2 separate regions of the Homo sapiens genome follow, and region 1 is linked to region 2. Evidence: fine-mapped expression QTL. Tissue or cell type: iPS cells. Region 2 holds a variant in brackets; the other region holds the start of a gene. All regions are shown on one strand. Distances are between the middles of the regions.

What was found. PIP is the estimated chance that this variant, and not a neighbour inherited with it, causes the effect. A credible set is the group of variants that fine-mapping cannot tell apart.
Region 1: BEND4 starts here. The variant in region 2 is the best candidate, but not a certain one, in a credible set for the expression of BEND4 in iPS cells (PhLiPS, PIP 0.88).

Annotation. Positions count from the first base shown.
Region 1 is chr4:42,151,261-42,154,018 of GRCh38, forward strand. BEND4 (BEN domain containing 4) reads right to left here and starts at 1,395. Exons shown (of 6, transcript NM_207406.4): 1 at 1,272-1,395; 2 at 397-1,116. The coding sequence starts at 883. RefSeq lists an enhancer at 1-712 and silencers at 478-567, 768-1,087.
Region 2 is chr4:42,269,880-42,272,637 of GRCh38, forward strand. No RefSeq gene overlaps it. Among named protein-coding and RNA genes, the nearest start is that of BEND4, 120 kb to the left of the region's middle. The variant T/C (reference allele first, on the strand shown) is at 1,488.

The DNA.
Region 1 (2,758 bases), 120 kb before region 2:
GAAAAAGTGAAGTAGTACGAGGGCGTCCCAGCGGGGCGGCCCGAGAAGCTCCAGCTTCTTCCCGAGCGGCCGCCGCTATCCCCCGGGGGGGCGTCTGGCCCCACTCCGGACCACGCCCGAGCGATCCTGGTCGCCGACTGCCACAGCCGTGCTTCCCGGCGCGGGATCCAAGCCGCGGAGCCACCTGTTAGGCGCGCGCCGTCGGAAGCCCAGGCGCGGCGGCGCTGGAGAATCCTCTCGAAGTTTCCGGGTGCGCGGGGAGGCCCCAGGTGCGCCCCGACATCCCGACACGGCCCAGCACGGGTAAGTGTCGGCGGCCCCCCGCTTCTCCTTCCTGGGTCCCCTCCCGCTGCCCCCGGCCGTGGCGGGAAGGAAAGTTGTGCGGAGAGTTGGTACCTGCGCTGAGCTCCAGGCTGGCGCTGTCGCTACCCGTGCCGCCGGTGCCGGCGGCCGCCGCCGCGCCTGGGCCATACCTGACGACAGCGGCGAACGAAGACGACGAGGAGGCGGCGGGGGACGCGGGCGGCGGCTGCGCCGGAGTCCTCAAGTGGCCCTGGGATGTGGCGGGCGTGCAGGACGGCGACGACGACGAAGCGGCGGCGGCGGCCCGGCCGGGCCCGGGGGGGTAGGAGCTCTGCGCCTGGAACTGCTGCGGCGGCGGCTCGCTGCTGCTGATGGAGACGGCGGCGTGCGGCGCGAAGGGCGGCGGGGGCGGCGGGGGCGCCCGCACGTGCGGCAGCTCCACCAGGGTGGGTCGCTCGTAGCGCTTGGCCAGCGCCGGTCTCTTGCTGGGGAACGTCTTGAGGACGCTGTAGGGGCTGCGCTGCTTGTAGATTTTGGGGACGCTGGGCCCCTCCTCTGCCGGCTGCATCTCTTCCTCCATCCGGCGCCTCGGGGCCGGTCCCTCGGAGCACGTCCCCTCCCCGCCGGGCGCCGGGCTCCGAGGGTGCCTCCGCCGCCTGCCCGCCGGGTCTGCCCTGGTGCGCGCGTGTGGGAGGGTGTGTGTCTGTGCCGTGGCCGCCGCCGCCGCCGCCTGTCGCTGAGGCTGGCATCGCCGAGCCCCCGCGCGGGGGGCTGCCGCCCGAGCTCCTGATTGACAGGCTGCCTCGCCAATGCCTGGAGGGAGAAAGGAGGTAAAGAGCAAGTGTTTAGGGTAATATCTGCTAATGATAATGGGGGCGGGGCGGGGCCTGGCGCCGCAGCCGCCCGCGGGGTCTGCCTGGCGGCTCCGCGCCTCCGACGGGGAGCGGGGGAAGGGGGAAAGCGAGGACCTGGAGGACGCCCGGGAACTGGTGAAGAAGGTGGGGATCCGGGATCTGGCTACGGCGAGACTTTAGAGACCCAGATGTGGACTCGAGGCTTCTGCGGCTGCGGGCGGGGTCCGGCTTCCGAAACGAGCTCGTGGCGCCCCCTGCATGACCCCAAACTCTCGGGGTTGCACAGAGGAGGGGCTAGTCGTTGGGGCGGGGTCGTCAGAGTACGTGTGTATTACAGCAAGTTCTTCTACCAATCGGGAATTGCTCTCCGATCCTTCTGAAAAGAACCTCTTGAAGATCTTGGCCCGGGTGGTCGCGCGGTGTTTACGGGGCTTTGGGGTCCTGCTTTCCCCGAGCATCGCGGCCTCTGAGCTCATGCGGAACATAAAAGCTCGCAAGGCGTAGAACTTTTTCACGTTTTCATTTGTTTCCCGTAGGGGCCCCGAGAACGTGCATGACACCATGATTTCCCCCCCATTATAAAGATGAGAAAACCGAGGCTCTGAGAGGTTGAAGGGAATTGCCCAAAGTCAGACACTCGGGAGTGTGCGGCTGTGTTGCACTGACGCATCCAGGTTATTTGAAGTCAACTCCTCACTTCCCATAGCCAGTAGCCTCTGTGCAATTGAGTGGGGAAATGTCCTGATACCTCCCTTTGAGGTGATGATTACTTTCAACAGTGTCATTTTTAATATATGTATATGTACTTGCAAGCCCAGGGAAACACGAGAACTCACTCCTTGCATTGTTTTACTCACTGCAACTGGCGCCATCCGGCGAGGGTCTGGAGGGTGCCCAATTTCAGTAGCCGTTTGAATGAGAGATCTCAGTCGTTGGGAGGAAGATCCTCCATGGGATGCAGATGTCCTGGTCTCTCCCAGCCACTTTTTGGGGCAGAGGGTCCATTGCTCCCTATCCCAAATCACCCCTCTTCTAGGCCAACCAGCATACCCTGCCCCAGGTTTGCTTTTCAGCCTTCCTTTTTCGTTCTCCAGGTCAGAGTTCTGGATGCTCCTTGATGTAGGACCCTCATCTCTGCACTCTGAAGTTTGTTTCCTTTTCAGAGCCTTCCTTTTATTCTTAGGAAGGTGACCCATTTTCTTCTGGGGGTTCACATCTTTTGGCCTCTCTTTCCCTGGTCTCCTTCCCTTTGGAAGCTTTTTCTCTCTGCCTTGCTGGTTCAGCTTCTGTATTATTCCCCCCTAGATTGTCTCCCTCTCTCCTGCAGCTTCCTCAGATGGTGCTGTGTCCCCCCCCCAATCCATTTATTAGAGATGAAATAAATAATGCCATAAATATAAGTATTTGGGAGTCCAGGAACTGTCAGGGCTGATTAGGGCATAGAGGACATTTTCTTTCTCATTATGCAAAAGCATTTCATGGGGAAATAAAAGAGGTTTCATTGTAACTCATGCATGTCATATTTCAAGGAATTCAAGATATTAATCATATTTAACATTATTTGCAATGTTTCTCCCTGGCTTCTGAAAACTGCTAAATGA
Region 2 (2,758 bases):
TTTTGGTTTCCTTTACCAACTGTCTACCAGGTACTGTGCTAGGTGCTTTATTAAGCTCTTTTATTTAATCTTTACTACAATCTAATATGGCAGATTTTATTGTCCTCATTTTTCAGATAAGGAAACTGGAGCCCAGAGAAGTTAACTAACATGCATTTAGTAAGTAGCAGAGGTTTGTTTTGGAGCCAGGTTGTCTCTCCACATAACATGTTTTATTTATACAATGGCCATTTATTCATTATGTACCATAAGTTCCAAGCTCTTTGATACAAAATAGGTTAAAATGGTTATGCTTTTACCTTATCTGCATGGTTGGTGACCTTGATGTTAGGTAGGCAAAATTTTACCTCTACTCTCTTAGGGCTGTTTTGGCTGGGCCTGAGAATTAAACTGACATAATGAGGCAGGAGGATCATGTGAACCCGGAAGTTCAAGGATGTAGTAGGTTATGATCATGCCCCTGCACTTCAGCCTGAACAACAGAGCGAGACCCCTATCTCTAAAAATAAAAATAAAAAAATAAAAAAATTTAAAACTAAACTAACATGAGACAGATTAACAGCATAAACACATACAAATTTATTTAATATAAGTTTTATGTGCCATAGGGACCCTCATAAGAAAATGAAGACCCAAAGAAGTGGCAAAATCTAAATGCTTTTATACCAGGTTGAGCAAAGAAATGCAATTTTGGGGCTGGTGTGGTGGCTCATGCCTGTAAATCCCAGCACTTTGGGAGGCCGAGGTGGGTGGATCACAAGGTCAGGAGTTTGAGACCAGCCTGGCCAACATGGTGAAACCCCATTTCTACTAAAAATACAAAAATTAGCCAGGTGTGGTGGCACGGGCCTATAATCTCAGCTACCTGGGAGGCTGAGGCAGGAGAATTATTTGAACCCGGGAGGCAGAGGTTGCAGTGAGCTGAGATGGTGCCATTGCACTCCAGCTCTGGGTGACAGAGCAAGACTCCATCTCGAAAAAAAAAAAAAAAAGAAATGCAATTGTGGAAAAGTAACTAAACTATGTGAGGAGGCTAACGGAATATAAGGATTATTTTAACAAGGTCTGTTTGTTCAGAATTCTCTTGGTCTCAACTTCCCGTTCTTGATGATGTGGGAAACCAAAATATGCCACCCCAAAATATACTTCTTTGGCATATTTTGAGTTGGTTATTCAGAGAAACTGTAGAAAGAAATAGCTCAGAAAAACTATCCTTTTGTAAAAGAAAAATTTACATTTACCCAAATTAGTGAAGCAAATGGGGGATGCAGGAAGAGGCTTTCTCTGAGGTCCTCTTATCCGGATCTAGGAAAGATCAACTTGCAGGAAAAGAAGACCTAAGGTTTGAAAGGGAAATCTTTACCATGGGCTACCATCTATTCTCTCTGAGGGCTGCTACCTGAAAGGCTTCATCTGCATAACAAGCCAGCCTTTGCTCACTGTGAGTTTCTTCCCTTCACCCTCCTATAACCTGTCACCACCTCCCC[T/C]CAGGAGCTACAGGCTCTATTTCCTTGTGTACGGTGTAAAAACTTCAGTCACCTGGCTCTTCTTTGAGTTCTCATATTCTGTGTGACTCCCATGCTTACGGATGTAATACATTTTTATGCCTTATTTTTGGTTAGTCTTTCTATTGTCAGTTTGTTTTTTTTTTCTTAATTAAAAAGAGAGATGAGGTCTCACTTTTTTGCCCAGGCTGGTCCCAGACTCCTGGGCTCAAGTGATCCTCTTGCCTTGGCCTTCCAAAGTGCTGGGATTACAGGCATGAACCACTGCACCCAGCTATCAGTTTGTCTTATAGACTCAAATTATCGAACTTTCAGAGGGGTGGGGAAAAAACTCCCTTCATTCTTACAGTGACGGGAATGTTGCTTTCCTTTGTGTATGGAGGACATTTTTCACATGGAGATTTTGTCTCCTGCTTTTGGGAAAACAAAGGGAAAAGAGTGCAGTCTTCTTGTGCTTGCTCTTGTGTGCCTGTAATCCCAACTACTTGCTTGAACCCAGGAGGCAGAGTTTACAGCGAGCCAAGATTGCACCACTGCACTCCAGCCTGGGTGACAGAGTGAAACTCCATCTCAAAAAAAAAAAAAAAAAAAAAAAAGTGCCTCTAACTCAAAATAATTTATATGCCAAAGTGGCATCTTTTGGGGTGACATATTCCACCACCCTTCACTGTTTATCTGGGGAAATCCTAGAGGGGCTATGTTTCCTGAATTCACACATTACACTCCTGAATAAACACAGAGTAAATTTTCTGAGTAAACAAGAAAAGCAGGTGGAGATACCAGCCACAGGCTCTCACCCCTCTTACCAGAGTGGTCTGCCTGATTTCCAAGGCTGCAAATACACAAACTGATGTCCTTGTATGAGAGGCTTCTTCCTTCTGCTTGTCTCACTCAACCTAAAGGGCACGGCTATAATAGAGAAAATGAGTGTCTGCCCTGAACAGCCAAGATAACCTTGAAGGGAATAAATGAACATGCATATTGATGGAGCAATTTGAGTACATATTGATTCCTGGTAGCTGGTGTCTGTATTCTTAGCTCATATAATAGGTAGTAGGAGTTCTTATAAATAAGCCTACAGAATACTTTTTTTTAAGAAACTCAACCAACCTTTGGGAGATCTTGTTATTTTTATTTACAAATAATTGATGGAGAATGCAGTGTGGCCTATGGCTTGGTGATTATTGATTTTCAGTCCTGATTAACAGAGCTCAAAACCTATAGGTGGCTACAGAAACAATCCTGAGCAAACA